Linked DNA regions of Homo sapiens. The protein of the gene in region 5 purifies or fractionates together with the protein of the main gene of each other region. This does not show direct contact. Each region holds a gene or a part of one and is shown on either strand. Other genes may lie near its edges. The genes, in order: CETN3, HADHA, NUDCD3, PPP6R1, USP49, PPP5C and ANKRD28.

Region 1 (3,500 bases), on a different chromosome or scaffold from region 5:
TTGGGACAGATGATTCTAAATCATAACATTTGAGTCCTAGTTTTATGAACTACCCAAGGACACTGTTCCACAGATATATCTGGATGAAGTTTGGCAGTTAACTATTATAGACTCTTCCTAGTACTGGAAAAAAGCTTTAAAATATATTTAATTTAAGTTTAGAGTCAAGACAGCCTGAGGCTAGTGAGTAACATAGATATTTTAGGAATTAGTGTCTTTAAGACTAACATAAGTCAAACGTTTGTACACTATTTTTGACATGTACTACTTATTATTGCTGATTGAGATTGTAATACTGTATTATTGTCTTCATTTTGCTTATTTAACACTGAATTTTTTGGTATTAGGTACTGTACTGGGGTTGGGAAGAAGACTTAATTAAAAGTTACTAAAAGGTTCTTCTTTCAGGGAGTTTACAATGTAAATATAGGTGACAACAGGCTATAGTACTATGTGGTAAATTGTAATTTTGTCTAGGACAGAAGTCAGCAACTATAGCCTTTGGACCAAATTCAGCTGCTGCTTGTACACCACCACACCCCTTCTTTTATGCAGCTTTTGTGCTACTATGGCAGAGTGAGTAGTTAGAGACTTTATGGCCCTCTACAAAGCCTAAAATATTTACTATTGGCCTTTTACAGGAAAGATTTGTTAATCCCTGATCTAGAGGAATTGAAGTCTTTGCAGAGGAGATTTTAAATTTAGGCCTTTGGAAATGTGAGTAAGATTTCATTCCAAGATTGCCAGGAAGAGTAGAGAAAAAGCATTCTAGGCTTAGAAAGCAGCAACAACAAAGAATGGTACTAGACGGATAGCATGTTTGGGAAACTAGGTAGTGTTCTGGGCTAGACATAGGGAAATGACTGGAAACATAGGATTGGGCCAGATTGGTAAAGTCTTGCAAAACATGAAGATTTTGAATTCTAGTCAGCAGAGATCATTCACAATTTTTAAGGGAAGGGGATATGATATGTTTGAGAAAGAAAACTGATGAGAGTATTATTGATGATGAGTTGGAAGGAAGAGAGACTGCAGACAGAAAATACTATTTTTTTCGCTGAGGATGGCGAGGGTGAAAAGAAAATACATTTAAGAATAAAAAAGAGGCTGGGCTTGGTGGCTCATGCCTGTAATCCCAGCACTTTGGGAGGTCAAGGCGGGAGGATTGCTCGCTCACAGGAGTTTGAGACCAGCTGGGGCAACAAAGTGAGATCCTGTCTCTACAAAAAAATTTTAAAAAATTAGCCAGACATGATGGCACATGCCTGTAGTCCCAGCTACTTTGGAGGTTGAGGTGGGAAGATTGCTTGAGCCCAGGAGTTGAGGCTGCAGTAAGCTGGGATCACGCCATTGCACTCCAGCCTGGGCAACAGAGCGAGACCTTGTTTTAAAACAATAAATAAATTAGAAAAAAAACAGTATTCTCAGTACTATAGGACCTGATTAAGTTTGTGGGACTGAAAATGATTTATGCTTTTCAAATATGGAATCTAGCTGTAAATGTTGCTGTTATCTTTTGGTTGGGGTAGGGGAGGCAGCTGCAGTTACTATGGTGGTAGTGGAATGAGTTTGGAGTCCAACATGTCTAACTGGTATGTTTGGATAGAAATTTCCGAAAGACATTGAGAAATACAGTTAAAGCTGTATTTCTAGCATTACCTATAATAATTTTTAATTTACTTTTGATGTGATGTTTTTGGATTTGCCGTATTCTTAAGTGATTTTTACACATTAAAGGTCTAAGAAAGTATTTTGATGAAGTACATTTCTGATAGTATGTGTAATTAAATCATTTGAAAATACAGTTGCATGGACAGAAATTTGGAGTTTTGTGAAATAAATGAAACCCACCTTAACTGCCTCTATATCAGTTTACTAATATTTTCATTGAAAATAAATATATTCCTTATAATTAAATTCTACTTTGTGGAACAAGAATAGAACCTGAAGGCATGGAGGAGAGTCATTATAAAGTTATATATTAGGTAATGTTTTTGCTGTCCAAAATGATGAGCATTTATAATTCCCAAGAAAAGCTGCATTTTAAGGAAGAATATTGATAAAAGAATATATAGACACATAGCTCTGAAATAACTAACACAATTAAAGTACCAGTGGGATAAGAATTTATACATCTTGGAGCCCCATCTGTTCCCCAATCACCCTGTTGCTTCTTTAAGTACATTAATACTTTCAGCAAGCTGCTTTTTTGGTTCACCTGTCATGTAAATTATTTAATTGGTGAAGAAAATTTCTTAACACTTTTTTTCCTTGTCCTGCTTTTTTGTTGGGACTAAATTCAAAATAAGTTGAGTATGTGCCATAGAGTTAAGTGTGGTATTTTATTTTGGTGTTATGGCTGTAGATATGCCAGCTTCTTTTTGACTGAATATTTATGAGCTTTGATGATTTGCATACTTACAGTAATATACTTCAATTAGTTACTTGGAAGCCTTTTTGGATAAAATTAATGGATAAAAGGAAACTATTGAAAATATGTGTAGATGATATAATAGTCATTTGAATAGGTGATTATTGAACCAAATACGGGTGAAACAGCAGCAAAACAACAGCTTGTTGGAGACTTCGATTGTATTTTTTTCATTCTGGGTTCCTTAAACATTCCAGTATTTTCCATCTATAAGCAGTTGCTTTTTTTTTTTTTTTTAATGATTCTGTAACCTTCAACAGGACCGAGTTATTTTTAATAGCATAGTAAAGGCCATAAATACCTTTTCTTGTAGTGGCAGATAGTGTATATAATTACTTCAGAGATACTTATTTAGATACTGTTAGAATTTTATTTAGTAACTTACCAATTTTTATGCCATAGATTTTTATTTTAATTTTTATTGTGGCTATTGATTAAAGACTGGTAAAATTGAAAATACTTAAGCTTATTACTATGTTATTACATGTGATTATATTTAGTGTATTAAAATACACAATTACCATTGAGGTTTGAAACTACATTTATTTTTAGTTAGTTGTCTGAGAGTGATTTATCCAAACAAAATGGGTAAGCTTTAAGGAGACCTTCTTTGCAGAGGTTTTTTTTGGGTGGGCTTTCCTGCTATAGTCAGATTTGATCCTATTTACTACTTTGTAAATTTTGGAAAACCAAGAGGTTCTTCTAATCACAAAGGTATTAGTGGAATTTTCAAATGCTGTCTGAGATTGTGCCTGTGTCTGCGATGGCAGTACTTTTTGTCTCTTGCAGTTTTTCTTGTTTTGAAGTTGGATTAAATTTGAGGAAGAATCAGTGTTAGTATGACGTTTAGTCAGCAAGCAGCTTTTATTTAGTTAGCTCCAATTATTTTGTTGGTATGTCTCTCCACAGGTAGATGACACACTCCTTGTGTGCTTGATGTCAGTGGAGCCTAGTACAATTCTTGATAATAGTAGATCTTAAATAAATATGGTATAAATGTAGTCCTTTTTATTTTGCCTCTGTGTGATATAGTTTTGCTTACTTTTATAATAAGACAAGTTGCTCATGA
Region 2 (3,500 bases), on a different chromosome or scaffold from region 5:
GGTCAGCCTAATTATCTAGATGAGGAAAAAAGGTATCAAGAGGTTAGTAGTACAGAGTCAGTCAGCATATGACGGGGTGGGATTCCATCACAGGTCTGTCTATCTCCAATGCCATTATGTAATACACAGATCAAGTAAATGTTATGTAAACTTATCAATCCAAAAGTTGTTTCTAACCCCTAAAGTGTTCTTTTACTTACATCTGAAATACTTAGGACCTGATTCAGACTCAGTACTCCTGAGCAAAAGGAATTAGCCTTTATTGATGTAGAATTTCTATATAATAAAATGCACAGATCTTGAAGTGTTCACATCAATGAGTTTTGACAACTGTATATACATCCATATAATCACTAACCCAAGCAAAATATATTTACATCACTCAGAAAGTTGTGCCAAAGATGACCAACTCATCCTGGATGGCTGGGGATTTCCCAATTTGTGGCACTGAGGGTCCTGTATCCCTTGCTCCCGGGCAAACCAAGATGGTTGGTCACCCTATTTTGTCTTTTTGGCCTTACTTTTAAATGAATGACAAAAGGCAAGCAGGTGAGAAAAGCTGTCCTAGATACTTGGAGGGCAGAACTGCAAAGTGTGATGCTTGCTCTGCTCCGATGGCGGGGAGAGGTTACCATCAAATGAACAGCAACGGCATCGCCTGTACTGATTTTAGATGCCACACAGATGTCTTGAGTGATATGACATGGCCAGACTGTCCATCTGTAGACTATCGGCTGCAACTTCTCCCTATGACCTTTAGCCTGCCATCATTGAGCCTGCCTCTGTCAGGTCCCCGCATCACTTCTAATCTGCTGTGTGCTAGGAAACTAGATTACCTTGCATTAGCAAGCTAGAAGAGTAGGAATAAATAGGCTTTTGTGTTTTCAGTACATAGAATTTGTATTAACACTTTCAGCTGCTTAAAGTTCTTTTATAATTCCTGCCTACCTTCGGCTGGTTCTGGTTAGCAGAGGCTAACTGGTATCCTCCAGAGAAGTGAGTTGTTTTACTTCTCTTTGAATGATTTCACTTCCCCTTAATTACTCTGGTTGAGAGCAAAAATAAATTTCTGGGCATCATTCCAAATACTCACAGAAAGTGCTTCTATACCCAGCCCTTTCATGTCCCGGGGTAGAAGGTGTAAGCAAACCCACGGGCAGACACATCCCACCATTCCTGCCATTCCCTGATCTGGAGGTGGAACCAAACCTGTTCTAAACAGTCACTGACTCTGCTCTGTAGCCAAACTGGTATTTTGGAGCATCCTTTCTTAAGGCCTATCCTTCAATGCCTAATTCTAGGATACAGGTGGGCTTTATATCCTGAACCTGAAAAATAATGCCCATTTGGGATCCTTGAAAAGGATATTTTTTGTTGTACTTAACTTACTCCTGCATCTCACACTAGTCATGGTATTAGCATTTATTGTGTCCAGTGTTTAGGAACCACCCGCATCCACTCCGTAATCCACTGTCTCTTCTGTACTCAAGCTGTAAGCCTTTATCAGTGAATCTGAAGCAATAAAACATCTCAGGGTTTTTCTCTGTTCCGAGTTTACCTTCTCAGGTCTTTTGCTGACAGCAGCGATTTCACTGATTGGGAGAGCAGATGTGTTACTGGCAAAGATACAGTGATCTGGAATCACCTGCAGGGGAAAAGCATTTAACAATGTGTCAGGTAGGCCTGGGAGATGATTAGAGGCCACATCAAAGCTAATGAGTGACACCTGGGCCCAGCCCACTCTGTCCCCCACAACTGCTCAGACAGTAGATGTCACTCACCCAGACATTGACGGATCACCTAGGGGGTTTTGTGTCGGGGAATATGTTGACCTTGTTCCTTTTCCCATTCTGCCTTCCTCTAGTTATGGCCCATCATAAGGTCACCTTATCCTGACCTGGAGACTACATCTCAGCAGTTGGGTCAATAAAACAGCTTAGAACAACACTGAAAAGACGGCCTTGAATTGCAATTCATTGATTTCAACACCCAGCATGGGTGTCACCTCCTCTTTTGTTTGGATCTGCCCTGAATCACTCCCCGCTTCACCTTTATAAGAACAAGCCAAAATGTGCATGCTTGTCTCATTTTATACAGTGTGTTACTAAAAAACGGCATACCACTATAGTTGCAGCTACAGTACACAAATACTATTAACTATTAGCTTTATCCACCTGGAGAATAGTCTCTAATGCAGATTGTCTCCGCATTCTGGCCACGATCCCAACTTATTCATGTTTTTTTTTTGTTTTTTTTTTTTAAAGACAGAGTCTCGCTCTGTTGCCCAGGCTGGAGTGTAGTGGTGCAATCTAGGCTCGCTGCAACCTCCGCCTCCCAGTTATTCATGTTTTTATTCAGATGGTTGGATGAGAAACGTGGAAGGGACACCTGTCAAATGTGTGCAAATCTGGAACAGGCAGAATCCTAACAGAGATGAGAATCAAGGAGGAAGACACATTCAACACACTGAAAAGCTGAGTACAAAATAAGATTATAATGCAATAAAAGTAAAGTACTGCCTTAAGATTTAAAAAAAAAAGGAAAGAAAAGAACTGTATAGGTACTTGAAGGACAAGACCTGGCTTGGCAGTATTTGTGATAAAGATCCCATGATTTTAGTTAATCAAGAGTGGAGGGTGGGCATGGTGGCTAAACAACTATAATCCCAACACTTCAGGAGGCCAAGGATGGAGGATTACTTGAGGCCAGGAGTTCAAGACCAACCTCGGCATCATAGTGAGACCCTATATCTACAAAACATAACTTTTTTTTTTTTTTTGGAGACAAAGTCTTGCTTTTTCGCCCAGGCTAGAGTGCAGTGGTGCAATCTCAGCTCACCGCAAGCTTTGCCGCCTGGGTTCAAGCAATTCTCCTGCCTCAGCCTCCCGAGTAGCTGGGATTACAGGCACCTGCCACCATGCCTGGCTAATTTTTTTGTAGTTTTTAGTAAAGACAGGGTTTCATCATCTTGGCCAGGCTGGTCTTGAACTCCTGACCTCGTGATCCACCCGCCTCAGCATCCCAAAGTGCTGGGATTACAGGTGTGAGCCACAGTGCCCGGCCCTACAAAAAATAACTTTAAAAAACTAGCCAGGCATGGTGGTACATACCCATAGTCCTAGTTACTCAGGAGGCTGAAGTGAGAGGCTCGCTTGAGCCCAGGAGTTCAAGGTTACAGTGAGCTGTGATCATGCCACTGCACTCCAGCCTGGGTGACAGAGTGAGACCCTGTCTCTAACAACAAAAAAACAAAACAAAAGTGGAATGAATTGACAGTACAGCATGACTGTCAGAAAGCTTACGTAGTGTCAGGTTACTTTCTTAGTAATATAGTGTCTAATGCTGGTGGTGAAATCCTTTCTGAAGAGCAAACTAATGTCTCCAAAGCTGGCTGGCAAACATTCTTCCCTTCCTTGGACATGTATGTCTTTTCTCCCAGCTAGAAGTAGAGTCTGTTTCCCTTCTCCTTGAATCTGGGCTGGTCTTGTGACTTGTTTTTA
Region 3 (3,500 bases), on a different chromosome or scaffold from region 5:
TTAGGGAATGGGGCTGGAGGACCCCCTCATGCAGCAAGCTTGGCCCCAGTGAGGAAGAAGTGGGGACAGGGCATGGTGCCCTGTCATGGGGTGAGGACTCCCCAGGAGATTCTGTCATGCATTAGGCTGAGCCCTAAGTCTCATAGGTCCCAGCTTACCCCTAAGATAGCAGAATGTTGGATGTTGCTCTTGGAAGCAAGAGAGATCACTGGAGAGGTAGTTGGTTGATAAGAGCTAAGCAGAGCCTTCCATGGCAAGCATGGGGGCAGGCTGGGTTGGCCCAGGACAGGTCCTGGTGTGGGGGGGTGTCATGGGTCTTGGAAAATAGCCTTTCTTCATGAGAGTGGGCAAGGTGTGCACATGGAACAGGCACTGTCCTGAGTATCCAGGACCTGCTGAAGAAGGATAAAGGCATCTTCCAGAATGTCAGTCCCCTCAGGTATGTGCCTCCTAGCTCTTCCCTGGGATATGTTAGCACAGGCAGCAAATGCATTCCCAGGCACAGAGGGTCCTGCCTTGGGTTCTGGCACCCCCTCTTGTCTGTCACCTCCCTTTGTGTAGTTGGTCCTGAGCTTATCCTGGACACCCATCCCTCAGTGGGCTCTGCTCTGTCCCCAGCCCTGGACACCTGTCTCAGGTCTCTGACTCAGGTCTCTGTCCTGCTTGTCCCCAGGTGAACCTGAGCAAGGTGGGCGAGTATTGGTGGAACGCCATCCTGGAGGGAGAAGAGCCCATCGACATTGACAAGATCAACAAGGAGCGCTCCATGGCCACCGTGGATGAGGAGGAACAGGCGGTGTTGGACAGGCTTACCTTTGACTACCACCAGAAGCTGCAGGGCAAGCCACAGAGCCATGAGCTGGTACGAGCATGGCAGTCCTGGAGAGTCCACCCTTTAGGCCCTTGTGCTGGTGACAAGGCCGATAGTGGCAGAGGGGTTGGTGATGACGGTGGGGAAGAAGGTTGTGTGGACCAGCTTCCTGCCATGTCCTAGCCTAGCAAGGAACCTGTCTTACCTGCTCTTGTCCCCAATCACTGCCTCACAGGTGCACTCTGGTCTTTCAGCTGTGTTCTCATACCTGGGCTGAGAGCCCAGTTAACAGGACCTCGAAGGGTGTCATGAGATCTGCCCTTCCTGCACCAGAGCCTGGTAACATCAAGTGTGTTGATGGCTTTTGTTTGTGCCTCATCTGCACATATCTTCCCATGAAGAGTCGCTTGGTGGGACCTTTGGTAGAGGAGGGGAGGGAGCCAGATTGCAGAGCCAGTTTCTGGATGTTGGAGGCCAGCATGTGAAGACTCTGTGATGTCAGCAGTGGGTTAGGGAGGAGGAAGAGAAAGGTTCCTGTCTGACCAGTGTAGTGCCCAGTGTAGAGTTTGCTCATGGCCAAAGAGAATGATTAATTAGATGTATACATTCTTTCTTCCTATTTTAATAACTCCAAGAGTAGCTATTTAGGGAAAAAAGGGTTGCTTTCCTCAGATTATTTTTAACTTCCCGTGTCCCATATACCCAGCACGTGGGTTTGGGCCGCAGTACAGCAGGGCACGCGGACGCAGTGCAGCCTTGAGTCAGTGGGGAGGGGTCATCTGCTGGGCACAGTCTCCTTATTTTTGTTCTGTAAACACGGACCGCCTCCTCCCCCTGAAGATCGCTGATCGATATTTTCTTCTCATTTTGTCTCTTGGAGGAACCTTACCTTGTGGTGTATCTGGATTGTCTTAGTCTTACCTTCCGGTACAGCACGTATTAATACATCGTAGGTGGTTCTGCAAGCCCTGTTGCTGTGTCTCGTCCGTTCTTGCCTATTTTCACAGACAGGTGCATCCTGCTCTTATGAGGTGAAGGAGCCTGCGGAGAGGAGTGTCAACATGTTCTCCTCACCTGGCCCTGCCACACCAGGGGCATGTCCTGAGCACTTAGTACACACAGTTAAGGTGGGGTTGACTGGCTGCACAGTACCCCTGAAAATACAGTTTGTTTGTTTTTTGTTTTTGTTTTTGTTTTTTTCCCCCCACAATAGAGAGATTGAATTTCTGAGGTTGTGACTCAGTAGCTTAGGCAGCAGGGATGGGGTTTGACCTCTGATTTGATTTCACACCTGTCTGTCCTCACAGCCCTGTCCACCCTGGCCCTTGTCTCTATGGAAGAGAATGTTCCTCTAGGTTTGGCCCCCTTTTCCACCCGGGGCATGGCAAGCTTAAAGGACATCTTTGCTTGGCCTACGTCCATGCAGAGTTTGAAGCCTCAGGTAGTATTGCAGCACCTGCTCAGCTGAGCTCAGCTCAGGTGCTTAGACAGCCAGACCTGCCTGGTTATGGCTCATTCCAGTTATGCTGCATTTGCCTGTGGCCACTAGATGAAAGGCCAGCCTTTGAACCTTTGCCCTGTGGGTAGGGCTTCTCATGGTAGTGTTTGGGGATGGTGTATGTGAGGGTCTGCCCACTCTGTGCCCATATTCAGCATTGGGTCCACAAAAGGACTGAGATGTATTCATGAGTTGACCTTCGGGAGAAAGAGTCTGTTTTGACTGGAGAACATGAACCCAGATGCCTTTTGTTCCAGAAAGATAAGAAGGCAGTCTTACCATGTACCCCTTAGAAGTGTCTTTTTGTGCCACAGGATGGAGGGACTAAGGTCAGGTGGTTTCTCACATCTTCCCCAGACACTGACACTGAGCCTTTGTTACAGAGAGATGATAAAAATTATTGTAGTTTGAATGGTATTTGTGCGTTTGTCAAAGCCTTGATGAAGTTTTTGTAGACTTTATTTTATTTTATTTTTTAAATTTTTTGAGACAGAGCCTCGCTCTGTCACCCAGGCTGGAATGCAGTGGTGTGATCTCAGCTCACTGATACCTCCGCCTCCCAGGTTCAAGCGGTTCTCCTGCCTCAGCCTCCTGAGTAGCTGGGACTACAGGCGCACACCACCACGCCCAGCTAATTTTGTATTTTTAGTAGAGACGGGATTTCACCATGTTGGCCAGGCTGGTCTCGAACTCCTGACCTCAGATGATCCACCTGCTTTAGCCTCCCAAAGTGCTGGTATTACAGACGTGAGCCACCACGCCTGGCCAGTTTTCTGTAGACTTTAGCTGTTGAGGCATGAGAGAAGCTAGGATGCTCTGGCTGTTTTTATCTGTGAGCCCTCATGTTTCCTGTGATTGTATCTCTTACAGAACTTTATATTCAAAAACAAAATAGCAGGAATACCTGCTCATCATTGGAGTTGCCAGTAGTGCCAAAGACACGCATGGAGGTGTCAGGGGCTCCACCAGCCTTTTCTTCTCTACATCCTTGCCCCTCCCCTTCCCTCCTTTCTTTCTGTTTCCCTTTTCTTTCCCTTACATCCTCCCCTCTCCTTGACCTTCCTCTCAGTCTCTTTCCCCCATCCTTTATGTTCTGTGCCAACACCTTGTAACATTGCATAGTCTCACCCCTCTATTGGGGCACGTCGGTGAGGAAGACAGACACAGATCTGCCTTTGTGGTGCTAGGATT
Region 4 (3,500 bases), on a different chromosome or scaffold from region 5:
CTCAGGATCTGTATGTACACTTGTCTATACGCATGTTACATGTCAATAAAAAGTGAAAACAGCCTAATTCCGAAATCAAAAGTCATGAGTCAAAAACTCAGTTGCAGATGATGACTTAGTGTTCAGGCTGTCAAATCTACATGGCATGAACCCATTTCATCACAGCGACTCTGGGGCCGGCCAGTATTAAGAGAAAAAAAAAAAACAATGTAACATTTGCACTAAAATGTCATCACAGCCTGATTGGAGAGGGACGTCATCATCTCTCATTTTACTGGAATTAGAGAAGAGAGAAGCTGCCTGGGACCATCTTACCCCCCTTTCTAGGAAAACGTGTGAGAGCTAACACGAGGAAGTGAAGTGAAGGGATGAAGGAAGGAGACAGGGAGGCGGGAAGAGAGAGACACACACAGACCAAGCCATACCTCAGGACCTGCCTATTTTTTCAGCCACAGAGATTATCCCTTTCTTTTCATAACTTAACTCATTTGAATTAGATTCCTTTTTTTTTTTTTTTCTGAGACAGAGTCTCGCTCTGTCGCCCAGGCTGGAGTACAGTGGCGCAATCTTGGCTCACTGCAAGCTCCGCCTTCCGGGTTCACGCCATTCTCCTGCCTCAGCCTCCCAAGTCGCTGGGACCACAGGTGCCCGCCACCACGCCCGGCAAATTTTTTGTATTTTTAGTAGAGACGGGGTTTCACCATGTTAGCCAGGATGGTCTTGATCTCCTGACCTCGTGATCCGCCCGCCTCAGCCTCCCAAAGTGCTGGGATTACAGGCGTGAGCCACCGTGCCCGGCTGATTTTTTTTAATTTGTTGATTCTTTTTTTTTTTTTTTTTTTTGAGACCAGGTCTCTGTCACCCAGACTGGAGTGCAGTGGTGCGATCTCAACTCACTGCAACCTCCGCCCCCCAGGGTAAAGCGATCCTTCCACCTCAGCCTCTCAAGTAGCTGGGACTACAGGCACACGTCACCACATCCAGGTAATTTTTGTAGAGACAGGGTTTCGCTATGTTGCCCAGGCTAGGTCTCAAACTCCTGAGCTCAAGCGATCCATCCACCTTGGCCTCCTCCCGAAGTACTGGGATTACAGGCTTGAGCCACTGTGCCCGGCTAATTTGTTGATTTCTTAATGCATCATCTACCTTTTTTTTTGAGACAAGTCTGGCTCTGTTGCCCAGACTGGAGTGCAGTGGTATGATCTCGGCTCACTGCAACCTCTGCCTCCCTGGCTCAAGCCATCCTCCCACCTCAACCTCCCGAGTAGCCAGGACTACAGGTGCACACCACCATGCCCATCTAACTTTTGTATTTTTTGTAGAGACAGGATCTCCCTATGTTGCCCAGGGCTGGTCTCAAACTCCTGAGCTCAAGCAATCCATCTGCCCTGGCCTCCCAAAGTACTGGGATTACAGGCACTCAGGGATTACATGAGCCCACCATGCTTGGCCTTGAATTAGATTTCTATCACTCAAAAGTGAAAGTGCCCCCAACTAATACACACACCAATGCAGGTTCCTTATTTTCTTCATTCACTTCAGCCTCAGTCCAAATGTGTTGGGGGGACCCCTTGGCCCTGCCGTGTGGTGGAAGCTTGGAGAAGGGAAACTGGAGGGGGACTCACCGGACACCAGGTGGCTGGCCCAGACGGGCCCCCCTGGCCAGCTGGCTGCCCTGCCAGGCGCCATCTTCTCCATCAGACTCCCCTGAGCCCTGGGCCTCTTCCTCGTCCTCCTCTTCCTCATCATCATCAAACTGCTGGATGCGGTCCTTGTAGCATATCTCAAGTAGGTTGGCGTTGGGCTGCAGGGCACAGGGGTGGGAGGATGGGCCACACTGCCCACAGCCCCACACCCCTCCACCCGCCACAACCAGGGGACAGGGCAGTACTCACGTTCTCATCGTCAGCATTGAGGGAGAAGGTGATGTTGGCTGTCTTGTCAAAAGGTGCGCTAGGAGAGAAGGCAAGGCATGGTGAGAAGGTCCACCTGGGGGTGGGGGCAGCACAGGACAGGCCACATTTCTTTCTTCACTCAACACAGAGCTGACCCTCATTACTTGCAGATTTGGTATCTGCAAATTCACACACAACCCGAACCACTGGTCCTAAGGGGCAACGCATACATGAATATCAACATCTCACATATGATCACTTTAAATCCTTAAAACCACTCATTGAGGTAGGCTGTTTCCCTTGGCTCTAGAAGTGAGAAAATGGGGCTCGGAAATGTTAAGCGACTCTCCTCAGGCTCTTCCAAGGACAGGTGCCAGAGAGGGATTCAGATCCATGCCCTTGTCCCCATCCTTGGGGCATCTGTAGGAGGCTGACACTCACACCAGCCAGGCACAAGCAGAATGTGAGACTACAGCCCAATAAAGCACATCCCCTAACCTCAAGATGTCTACGGTCCGCGGCTGAAATTCTAAATTATGGGAAAAAGAATCACGTCAAAACTTAAACTGTGCCTGCCAGGGCCCCACCTCCCTCACCACGAGGGTCTAATGATCAGGGTCCACATTCTGTCCCACGTGTTACGGACAGTTCAAGGGATCATTTGTCTCAAATTCATGAAAAATTCTGCCACAAAGATCAATGGATAAAGGACAGTTAATTCTTAAAGGACACTAAGTATGTGACAGACATTACTCACGCACTTCATTCTCACAACCACCTTCCAAGGCAAGTGTCCTTAGTCCCTCCTAGACACTGAGAAGCAGCGGAGCAGAGACCACGCTGGGCACACAGTGGGTCTAGGGCAGGGCAGCCCATGTCCCCGTGGCACTGGCAGCCTCAGCTGACCTGGCTTCTGCTACAGGAGCTATGCGGGGCAGCATCTTCAGCCTTGAGATGATCAAACCAGTCATCCACTTTCCATTCCGGAAATCTTTCTGGGTTTAGTTTTGTTCACTTAACTTCTTAACCCCTCTGGAATTTTCTTGGTAGAGGAAAAGCTAACAGTTTCATCCCGAAAGGGGCAGCTGGTGACCCCAATGCCATCTACCAGTCAGTCCCTTCATTCTCCTGCCAGGGTGGGGTTTTCTTCTTTTTTTTTTTAATTAAAAAAGCAGAGATGGTCTCACAATGTTGCCCAGGCTGGGCTGAAATTCCTGAACTCAAGCGATCCTCCTGCCTCGGCCTCCCTAAGTGCTGGGATTAAGATGTGAGCCACTGTGTCCAGCCCAGTTTTCACTTGAGCATCTTCTCCAGGGGTCTCGGCACAGGCCACTGACCCACAAAGACCAACGCTCTGCAAGTCTCCATGCTGGGCACAGAAGCAGCCAACACAGGATATCACGTCTGCATCTGAGAGGACCTCTGTCCAGCTGTGGACTAAGCCAGGAACAGCTGACTATCCCTCATCGTGGTGTCCCTTACGCTGTGCTGTACAGGGACCCCGGGGCAGCCATGGGCAGCCATCCAGCTCCCACACACTAACCAGCTATGTCCTGGGGCCTCAGTCTCCCTGGCCGTAAATGAGCTCATCGTGGGGAGCAAGAC
Region 5 (3,500 bases):
GTAGCTGGGATTACAGGCATGCGCCACCACGCCCGGCTAATTTTGTATTTTTAGTAGAGACAGGGTTTCACCATGTTGGCCAGGCTGGTCTCTAACTCCTGACCTCAGGTGATCCACCCACCTTGGCCTCCTGAAGTGCTGGGATTACAGGCATGAGCCACCGTGCCCGGCACACCTGCCTTTTTTTAACTATAGAAATACTCTTTCTGCATATTCTCGCAAGGCCCTGTCTAAGCATTTTTGCTTAGGTTACATGGCTAAAGATGCAGGAAATAAAAGGTAATGGGGAACAGGAAGGAGGCTTGCACTGGCCTTTAGCATGCTCCCAGCTACCTACCTTCCCTGTATGTAAAGAAGGGAGATTGCTCTTTCAAACTATTATGGAACCAGGGTTACAAGCAAACTCTGTTCCCTCAAATTGATCAAAGGATGGCACACCAACAATGGGTACTTAATTATAACAATGAGAATATTATATTACCCCTATCTTCAATAACAATTAAAGATATTCACTGAAAATTAAGCGATGTGGCAAGTTAAACTAAAAATCTGGCCGGAAAGACACTAGGCAAGTTTCCCCAAAAGGCCATCATAATGTACAGCAGAATGAAAGGTATAATGGCCACCCTCCAAATTGCATAATCACAGCAAATGTGGGCTACTCTTATTAGCCCAATAACCCGGGGAAGGCACTCACAGGAAGCCCAAGCTAACATACAAGCCTCTCATTGTCATGGTAGGCACACACATACCTGACTGAGCAGCTGCCCATGAAATATGGTATTCACCACCTTTAAGACCTGTTTGGTGAGCTTCCTCTGGGAGAAGGGGATGAGGATCCGGCGTGTGGTGCCCTCAGACTCGAGTTCCTGCTGCACCTTGTGCAGCAGCTCGCAGAGAAATTCCTGCGCGTCCTGTTGGTCGTAGCCGCGGAAGGCAGGGATCAGGCTCCACACTGAGTGGAGCATGGCGAAGGGCGACACTAGGGCCCACTTCCCGGACCACATGACTCGGAAGAGGGTGTGCAGTTCACGGCAGAGGGAAATGTGCTTTGAACTCGGCTCCTTGTTCTGGATGAGCTCCAGACTCCGACTAATGGAGGCCCTGCCGTTCCAGCAGAAGCCCTCCCGCTCGCATGCCTCGGCCCTGTCATTTCTCAAGGACAGCTCCGTGGCCGAGCTGTTGGTTGGCTTGCCAGAAAGCTGAGTCTTCCCGTTGGTGGCTTTGGGAAACAGATGTTCCGTTTTGGAAGGGTCAAGGTTGAGGAAACATTCTCGGAACTTCTGGAGGTGGCTGAGCACCTGGAGGATGGAGTTCATGTAGCAGGTGTTGCCCAGGTTGCGCAGGCCCGTGACGCCTGGGGCCATGGCCGGCTGGCGACGCAGCTTGAGTGTGGCGGCGGGCACTCTGCGTGAGGTAGGGAGGGCGGCGGGGCGCGAGGCAGCCGGGCCCGCGTCGCGGGGCGTGTGCAGGAGCAGCCGTGCACTCTTGCGCGGAGGGGTGCTGGCCAGCTCCTCCAGCAGCCGCCGTTTCACCTCGCGCCGCCGCCTCCGCGCCTCCTCCTTCTTGCGCTCCAGGGCCTCCTCCTGCCGCCGCTGCTCCAGCTTCGCCTGGCCCCGGGAGCTCTTCTCGAACCACAGCCGCAGCGTCCTGGCCAGCAGGCGCTGACGCCGGTACCACAGAGCCGTGAGCATCTGCGGCTGTCCCTGAGGAGCGCGCTGCGGCAGGACCACGTCCTCACCCGAAGCCATGGACCGCAGCGTCCGCCCACGTCTCACCGGCGTGTCCTGTTTCTGGCCCCGGACCGCCAGGAGGGAGCTTCTTAGCAGCTTCAGGTCCCCCTCTGGGTTATCATTGAGCACGTAGTCCTTGCACAGGTAACAGAACACGTAGAGATCCCGGACTTCCATGGCTAGCGGGTGTCCCGTCTCCTCAAAGTGTTTCAGGGCGTGGTCCTCAATATAGCGGCCGCAGGCCACGTGGGAGCACTTGAGGCAGGCCCACACGGACTCGGTGGTGGCACACTCTAAGCAGCACCACTTCTGAGGGTTCAGGATGGAGTGGTCCTGGGCGAGCCGTAACCGCCCTACATGTTTGCATCTATCCATGTCTTATAGAAGTCGCCACTTTCTCAACCTGGCACGACAGAGTCCCCAAAAAAGAAAAAGAAAAAGAAAACACTTTTAGAAAAATATTTTCCTTAAAAAAAAAAAAAAAAGTAAAAGGCTTGCAATTGATATTTCAACTCTAGATTCATTCATTTTCAACTCCAAATTGGTTCCTTTGAAAGTTAAAAAAAGGCACATTTGGTATAAAGGCAGAGAGTTACAGGACAGTTAAATTACTTAAAAAGGAAGACTCTTACGGAAGGGTTAGCACAAATTTGAAACTTTATGGTGTTTCACATACCAGTGGGAGAGATGAAGAAACTCAAATAAAAAGTCAATTTTAGGTCGATTGCAATGTTTTTCAAAGCAGAGATAACATGATATAAGATAGAAATAAGAGAAAGAAAGTCCTCACCAGTACAAAGTATCATTTTTATGAGACGTGACTAAGGAACATTGTATATGTGGTTTTGTTTTGAGACGGGGTCACTCTGTCGCCCAGGCTGGAGTGCAGTGGCGGGATATCAGCTCATTGCAACCTCCACCTCCCGGGCTCAAGCGATTCTCCCACTTCAGCCTCCCGAGTATCTGGGATTACTGACGCCACGCCACCACACCCGGCTAATTTTTGTATTTTTAGTAGAGACGGGGTTTCAACATGTTGGCCAGGTTGGTCTCGAACTCCTGACCTCAGGTGATCTGCCCACCTCGGCATTCCAAAGTGCTGGGAATACAGGCATGAGCCACCGTGCACAGCCGTATATGTGTTTTTTAATTTATTTTTTGTTTTTTATGTATTTTTTTTTTTGAGGTCGAGCCTCCCTCTGTCACCCAGGATGGAGTGTAGTGGTGCAGTCTCAGCTCACTGCAACTTCTGCCTCCCTGGTTCAAGCGATTCTCCTGCCTCAGCCTCCCAGGAAGCTGGGATTACAGGTGCGCGCACCACCACACCCGGCTAATTTTTTTGTATTTTTAGTAGAGACGAGATTTAACCATGTTGGCCAGGCTGGTCTCGAACTACTGACCTAAATGATCTGCCCGCCTCAGCCTCCTAAAGTGCTGGGAATACAGGCACGAGCCACTGCGCCCAGCCAACATCCGTCTTTTTGAAAAGAACATCTGCATCTTGCAGTAAGGGTGGGAAAACTTTTACCTTCTTTACTGAAAGGAAAGGTAAGTAAAGAACTGGACAAATCTGACTTAGGACAAGAGGTGAAGTGGCTACTGGTATAATATTTAACCAAACTACCGAAACAAAAGAAAAAAAAGCAACGAATCTTCCAGCTGATATATATGAAAATGCTTTTTAAAACAGTAGAACATCCTAAGCATGTTTTTTTTTCCCCCTCCCAATAATGCTTCTTCAATTCAATAATCAGAGAAGCCTTGTGG
Region 6 (3,194 bases), on a different chromosome or scaffold from region 5:
CATCCAGCATGGACATGGACATTCAGGACAGGTGACTGTGATTCTGAGCCACCCCCACCCTCTCTGCTGATCTGCCCTCCAGACCCCATTCAATCCCCTGTGGCCCCGAAGCCAGATAGAGCTTTCAATGTCACTATTCAGATCAGGCCCCTCTCCCACTCAAAGCCTTTGGTGGCTCCGCACTGCCCTAGGAACAAAGTTCCTCACTGGGGCCTGTAAAGCGCCATAGGATTTGGGCCCAGTGAACCCCATGTCCAATGTCAGCCCTCAAAGCACAGCCCTGCCCACTCGCCAACTTCTCCCTGCCTTAGGACCCCTCCTCAAGCCTGGAATATGCTCGCCAGGCTCTGTGCACGGCAGATGCCTCTGCTTCCCGCAGTGTCAGCTCAAACCTCGCCTCCCTGGAGAGGCCTTCCTGAGCACCCAGCACCAGCCCACCCAATCCATGTCCTCTGCAGCACTCACAGTGTGCACGTGCGTGTGCACCTGTGGGTGAACTCTCTGAAGTGTGCCCGTCACTAGCACAGGAGCCCCAAGACCTCCCCTCCTTCCAGGGTTCCACAGCTGAACTCACAAATAAATAAGGACAGGTGTGCTCGGCGGTCACCGTGCCTTCACCCCGCACCATGGTCACGACCGTGCTTGCCATCACAGCCCCATGAAGGAGGTGCACTGGCCCAAGTCGCAGGTGAGGAAACTGAGGCTCAGACCCGCTGTTTCTTGCCAAGGGCACAAAGCCCATCCTCCGAGGCAGGGCTGGGTTGCAGGGGAGAGCTCAGCCCAGGCTGCCCCTTTCTGCTGGAGACACCTGGCCCCGCGCTGCTCACCTGAATCTGGGGGTTGTCGATTCCGCTCAATTTTCCGGATGTCATCCAGGGTGACACCGTCTTCACTGAACAGGCCTCCGTGCATGATCTGGGGAGATGGGGGATGCCGCTGTGAGGGAAGGTGCCACCCACCCACAGGCCCCAACTTCCTTCACCAGCACATCTGCCCAGGTGTGGCTGGGTGGGGAACCCACACTCAGGGCTCGCGCCGTCCTCACCAGCACTTTGCCGTTGATGCACTGGGCCAACGGGAGCCACTCGAACACCTCGCTAAAGAGCTCGTACATCTGGGCTGTGTACTTGGCCTTCACCTCACCCTCGAAACCGTAGATCTGGTTCATGTTGTCTGTCTCGTGGTTGCCTGGCCAACACGGGGACAGAAGAGAAAGCTCAGCCTCCAGGTACATCAGTGTCCTCCAGCCTGGCACCCTCAAGGCCCAGAACTGTGCATGCGTCCCTTGCCCCCATGGGCCTCGCACTTGCCACTGCGGTGCCTTCCAGACTGGAGGTACCAAGGGGGGAATCTTGACAAAAAGTAGGTCCATGGCTAAGCACCATGGCTCACGCCTATAATTCCAGCACTTTGGGAAGCCAAGGCAGAACTGCTTGAGCCCAGCAATTTGAGACCAGCCTGGGCAATATACTGAGACCTCTCTATAAAACAATTTTAAAAATTAGCTGGGCATGGTGGTGCGTGCCTATAGTGCCAGCTACTTGGGAGGCTGAGGCCAGAGGATCACTTGAGCCCACGAAGCAGAGGCTGCAGTGAGCTATGCTCATGCTACTGCACTCCAGCCTGGGCAACAGAGCAAAGCAAGACCGTCTCAAAACCAAAAAGTAGGCCCATCTACAGAACATGTGCCCCAGCCCACCCCACCCTGAGCTCCATCCTTCTGTCTCAGACACAAGCACCCGGCCTCCTTCTTCCCTTCCAGAGCTTGGGGGCAAGGAGAAGGCTGCCCAGTCTCGCATCTGCTCAGACTCTGCTTGTCTGACTTCTCGGCCTGAGCACTTGTTGCCTCCTGCAACGAGGCCCACAGTCGGGCTTCCTGAGCTTTGACCCTGTGCTGGACACTGCTGCGTGAACCCTGTGAGCCCAGGGACACGGGCATGCAGGCTTCGCCCCAGCCTATCACTCACCTCCCAACTCACCCCGGCCCCGCCATGGGCAGGGCCTCCCCTGTGTGGCCCTCACATCCCAGTGAGCTCCTCTTGTCTAATCTCATCTGGACACCAAGAAACCTACATTTTCAACACCCCTTGGAACCCCACCCACATCCCATGTCTCCTGAGTCTCAGCCACATCCAAAGGGGAGCTCCTCAGCTCCTGGCCACACCCTGCTCTACATGTTCCCGTCTTCGTCACTGGCAGCCATAGCCCTCCAGATACTCCGGCCAAAACCCTAGAGGGCCCCTTTCGTTCCCTCTTTGTCTCACACCTGTGTCTGTTCCTCCAGCAAATACTCTGGGCTCTACTTCCAAGTTTCTTACTTTTTTTTTTTTTTTCAAAGAGACAGGGTCTTGCTCTGTTGCCCACGCTGGAGTGCAGCGGTGTGATCATGGCTCACTGCAGCCTTACACTCCTGGGCTCAAGCAATCCTTCCACTTTGGCCACCCAAGAAGCTGGGACTACGGGTGCACGGTGCCACCATGCCTGGCTTTTTTTTTTTTTTTTAGACTGAGTCTCACTCTATCGACTAGGCTGGAGTGCAGTGGCGCAATCTCGGCTCATTGCAACATGTGCCTCCTGGGTTCAAGCGATTCTCCTGCCTCAGCCTCCCAGGCAGCTGGGATTACAGGCGTGTACCACCATGCCCGGCTAATTTTTGTATTTTTAGTAGAGACGGGGTTTCACCACATTGGACAGGCTGGTTTCGAACTCTTGACCTCAGATGATCCACCTGCCTTGGCCTCCCAAAATGCTGGGATTACAGGCATGAGCCACTGCGCCTGGCCTTTTTAAAAAATGTTTACTGGAGACAAAGTCTCACTGTGTTGCCCAGGCTGGTCTCAAACTCCTGGGCTGAAGTGATCCTCCTACCTGGGCCTTCCAAAGTGCTGGGATTACAGGTGTGAACCAGCACACTCAGCTCCGGGCTCTACTTCAATCAAGAGAACCCAAATCTGACACCAAGCCTGAATCTGAGGGGGCACAACTGCCTCGTCAACAGTCTCCTTACTCCCACCCTCGAGCCCTGGTCTGTTCACTCAGTCACTCAGCTTTAGTGCCAGATTTAGGGCCACCCAGGAGCCTGTTTCATGCCCTTGTGCAAATTAGAATAAGGGGCCCATCCTCACACCCTTGTTTGCCATCTGCTGAAAAATGGTCAGAGTAAACATCCATTTCTACACTATCTATGATGTAAA
Region 7 (3,500 bases), on a different chromosome or scaffold from region 5:
AATGGGAACTTTACAAAGGGGGAAAAATTACTTTTTGTGGCTGGGCACAGTGGCTTACTCCTATAATCCCAGCACTTTGGGAGGCAGAGGCGGGAAGATCACTTAAAGCCAGCAGTTTGAGACCAGCCTGGGGAACAAAGCGAGACCCTGTATCTACAAAAAAGTTTAAAAATTAGCCAGGCATGGCATGTGCCTATAGTCAGAGCTAGTCAGGGGGCTGAGGTGGGAGGATCACTTGAGCCCAGAGGTTGAGGGTGCAGTGAGCATGATCATTATACTGCACTCCAGCCTGGGTGACAGAACAAGACCCTGTCTCAAAAAAAAAAAAAAAAATCCTTTTTTTATCAAGGCCAATATAGCATAGATGAAAATATGTGGGAGAACTGGAAGCAACCAGATGCCCAGTAGTTGAAATGTATAACTAAACCATAGTATAATCACACAATGAAATACTGTATAACAATGAAAATGAACCAACTACAGTTACATACAACATTGATAAATTTCATATAATGCTACACAAAAATGCCAGATATGAAATAATACATACTACATGATTCCATTTATATTAAGTTTTTTAAAAACTCTAAACTGTAGGCTGGGTAAGGTGGTTCACATCTGTAATCCCAGCATTTGGGAGGCCGAGGCAGGCAGATCACTTGAGGCCAGGAGTTTGAGACCAGCCTGGCCAACATAGCGAAATCCCATCTCTACTAAAAATATAAAAAATTAGCTGGTCATGGTGGCACACACGTGTAATCCCAGCTACTCAGGAGGCTGAGGCAGGTGAATCACTTGAACCCAGGAGGCAAAGGTTGCAGTGAGCCAAGTTTGCACCACTGAACTTCAGCTTGGGTGACCGAGCAGACTCTGTCTCAAAAAAAAAAAAACAAAAAAAAAACTATAGTGTTTATGACTCCAAGTTGAAAGCAAGGAAATTACTACCCCATAAGTCAGGATAGTAGTTACCATTGTGGAAGAAGAAAGGTGTAACGACTGGGTAGAGGATATATGGAGGCTTCTGGTATGCTGGTAATGTTCTCTTTCTTAATCTGTATGGTGGTTATACAAATGTATGTTATGTGATAAAACTATTAAAGTTCCATATGGTATAATTGAAGCTTGGCATCACACTATTATCACTTCTCTCCCGCTCCGTCCTCAAGACTGAGTCTTGTACCAACTGAGGTACCAAATGTTTCCTCCTTGGTTTGCTGTGTTGACACTTTGTGGTAACTTACGACTAAGGTCAGTTGTCTTCCGCTTAAAAAAAGGGAATATTTACAAAGGAAATATTTGTTTTGATTTAGTAGTTTTTAAAGTTCATCTGCTTAGTTTGTCTACTGTTTTTCTTCAAGAGACTGTGACCCCAAGAGAAAAGTTAAATTGACAACTAAGTGTCATTCATTCAACACATATCTTTTGAGCACCTGCCCTGTGGCTGATTCATGAAGCTGTACACATTTAAGATTTCTTAGCATCAAAAAGTTTCCTTACATAACTACAAATTAAATTTTTTTATTTTTTCTTACCTTGACACTGATATAACTGCAAATTAACAGTAAATCTCTGCCTACCATCCTGAAAGAATATTCACGATATGTGGTGTTTTTCTTATTCTAGCCCAGTTTTTTCTGTGAATTCAGATGGATACGGATAAGTTGTGAGACCTTGGGGAATCATTCTTCTCTGGGCCTGCTTCCTCTTCTGTTGTCTAGTCTAACATCCCCTTCCACCCTAGGTTTCTATGGCTATTCTTTTTCTACTTATTAGAAACTTGCGAATCATGCTGGTTACAGCAATTTATTATAAGCTAAGTAATGTAAAATATGTCTAAAGTTGAAGTACTTTAGGCTTATTTCCTTGTCTTTGGTGAAATACATCTCAGGATGCTTAATTTTTAAATTTTATCTTTAATTCTAGGCTATACCCCAGCTTTGGCCTGTGCTCCCAATAAGGATGTGGCTGATTGCCTGGCTCTCATTTTGGCCACCATGATGCCTGTCTCATCAAGTAGTCCTTTATCATCCTTAACATTCAATGCCATTAACCGTTATACCAACACCTCAAAAACAGTCAGCTTTGAAGCTTTGCCCATCATGAGGAATGAACCTAGCTCCTATTGCAGTTTCAATAACATTGGAGGGGAACAGGAGTACTTATACACTGACGTGGATGAGCTCAACGACTCCGATTCTGAGACCTACTGAGAGGCTGAGGAGGAGGGAGTTCTCACAGTAAAGCTTCAAACTGTGCTTTTTCAGGAAAAAGGCACTTTGATATTCACGTAGAAATTCAACCTAAGAGGAAAGATCCCACAGTGAGCCAATGTTAAGAGATCTGATGGCATTAGGAGGAAGAGTTTTAAAGGCAAGTTTTACAAAAGGAACTTCTAGAATCTTGAAATAGACCTGACTGAGGAAAACACATTGATGTCAGAATTCTTTGTGGAATTGTTTAATTTGGTTTTGCAGTGCCAGGAACAATTGGGGACACTGTGCACTCTAACCTGCTTACACAAGCAACACTATTGTAACAGAAGAAATAAAGACACTAGATTTAAATTTTATCAATAAAATTACAACTAAATTTAAAGGCAATAAAAGTTTGGTACAGTAGGCATTATGTGCACAGCAAATTGCAAAAGGACCAAATAACTGAAAGGTTTTTTTAATAAAATGCCATTTTGTGGAAACTGGAGTAGATTAAATGAAACATTACCTAAACCAAACTGCAATATTTCTGGAAATGAAGCTGAGATTTGGTTTTAAATGTTGAGTTTTTTTGGGTTTTGTTTTTTTTTTAAGAAAACATCTGAAAGCCTTCCAATGCTGTATTAAACCATGAGAGAAAGCAGATGTATTTTTACATTTTTTTCTTTTACAGAACTATTTCAAATTTCCAATTTTTATACTATTAGAATTAAAAACCAGCTGACTGGGTGCAATACGGGTGAAAATACTTGTGACATAGACATTGAGATGGATTGGGGTCAGGCTGTTGCCCTGTTTTGAATGGTTTGGGTTTAAAATAGTACTATTTTTGTTTGAAAATGTAAAGAATTTCCTAGAAAAAAATTCATGAAATCAAAAAGTAGACTATTTCACCCTATTGCAGCTAAGTGGTCCTGGGGCATGGAGTCTTCAACCTCTCTATGAATGGCACACCTTAGTCACTTATGTTACTTTTGTGTCCCCACCATGGGTTGGGGGATTTTTTGTTTATTCTGATCTATGAGTTTTGAAAAAGTGAATAATCAAAAGGAAAATAATTCCTTGTTGTTCATAAATTAAGCATCACTAAAGTCTCTTGAAAGGCATTTCTGTATTGGGCAAGATTTAAAATACTAAAGCCTTAGGTCCTATTCATATTTAAAGTAGCATGTTTGTAACCTGTTACTATTTGGAGAGAGAAGCAGTTGCCTGCCAAATTGAAGACTACCTTTCAAATAGCAAAAGAGAGAGAGAAGGCTGATATTTCGGCTTTTAAATAAAGATTTG

What was found.
Region 1: the proteins of USP49 (region 5) and CETN3 purify together in Homo sapiens (affinity purification with mass spectrometry; 4 studies listed by BioGRID and IntAct, with this or other methods). This does not show direct contact.
Region 2: the proteins of USP49 (region 5) and HADHA purify together in Homo sapiens (affinity purification with mass spectrometry; one large-scale study listed by BioGRID and IntAct). This does not show direct contact.
Region 3: the proteins of USP49 (region 5) and NUDCD3 purify together in Homo sapiens (affinity purification with a luminescence readout; one large-scale study listed by IntAct). This does not show direct contact.
Region 4: the proteins of USP49 (region 5) and PPP6R1 purify together in Homo sapiens (affinity purification with mass spectrometry; one large-scale study listed by BioGRID and IntAct). This does not show direct contact.
Region 6: the proteins of USP49 (region 5) and PPP5C purify together in Homo sapiens (affinity purification with mass spectrometry; one large-scale study listed by BioGRID and IntAct). This does not show direct contact.
Region 7: the proteins of USP49 (region 5) and ANKRD28 purify together in Homo sapiens (affinity purification with mass spectrometry; one large-scale study listed by BioGRID and IntAct). This does not show direct contact.

Annotation. Positions count from the first base shown.
Region 1 is NC_000005.10:90,399,757-90,403,256, reverse strand, and holds part of CETN3 (centrin-3), read left to right. Parts: intron 1-3,500. UniProt on the Homo sapiens protein: Plays a fundamental role in microtubule-organizing center structure and function. As a component of the TREX-2 complex, involved in the export of mRNAs to the cytoplasm through the nuclear pores.
Region 2 is NC_000002.12:26,196,133-26,199,632, forward strand, and holds part of HADHA (trifunctional enzyme subunit alpha, mitochondrial precursor), read right to left. Parts: intron 1,646-3,500; coding exon 1,559-1,645; intron 1-1,558. UniProt on the Homo sapiens protein: Mitochondrial trifunctional enzyme catalyzes the last three of the four reactions of the mitochondrial beta-oxidation pathway.
Region 3 is NC_000007.14:44,389,659-44,393,158, reverse strand, and holds part of NUDCD3 (nudC domain-containing protein 3), read left to right. Parts: intron 1-673; coding exon 674-862; intron 863-3,500.
Region 4 is NC_000019.10:55,235,018-55,238,517, forward strand, and holds part of PPP6R1 (serine/threonine-protein phosphatase 6 regulatory subunit 1), read right to left. Parts: intron 1,954-3,500; coding exon 1,896-1,953; intron 1,805-1,895; coding exon 1,626-1,804; intron 1-1,625. UniProt on the Homo sapiens protein: Regulatory subunit of protein phosphatase 6 (PP6). May function as a scaffolding PP6 subunit. Involved in the PP6-mediated dephosphorylation of NFKBIE opposing its degradation in response to TNF-alpha.
Region 5 is NC_000006.12:41,804,876-41,808,375, forward strand, and holds part of USP49 (ubiquitin carboxyl-terminal hydrolase 49), read right to left. Parts: intron 2,137-3,500; 5' UTR 2,109-2,136; coding exon 753-2,108; intron 1-752. UniProt on the Homo sapiens protein: Deubiquitinase that plays a role in several cellular processes including transcriptional regulation, cell cycle progression or innate immunity.
Region 6 is NC_000019.10:46,385,087-46,388,280, reverse strand, and holds part of PPP5C (serine/threonine-protein phosphatase 5), read right to left. Parts: intron 1,189-3,194; coding exon 1,046-1,188; intron 916-1,045; coding exon 828-915; intron 1-827. UniProt on the Homo sapiens protein: Serine/threonine-protein phosphatase that dephosphorylates a myriad of proteins involved in different signaling pathways including the kinases CSNK1E, ASK1/MAP3K5, PRKDC and RAF1, the nuclear receptors NR3C1, PPARG, ESR1 and ESR2, SMAD proteins and TAU/MAPT.
Region 7 is NC_000003.12:15,668,980-15,672,479, reverse strand, and holds part of ANKRD28 (serine/threonine-protein phosphatase 6 regulatory ankyrin repeat subunit A), read left to right. Parts: exon of another isoform or gene 1-846; coding exon of another isoform or gene 847-870; exon of another isoform or gene 871-1,120; intron 1,121-1,923; coding exon 1,924-2,210; 3' UTR 2,211-3,500. UniProt on the Homo sapiens protein: Regulatory subunit of protein phosphatase 6 (PP6) that may be involved in the recognition of phosphoprotein substrates. Involved in the PP6-mediated dephosphorylation of NFKBIE opposing its degradation in response to TNF-alpha.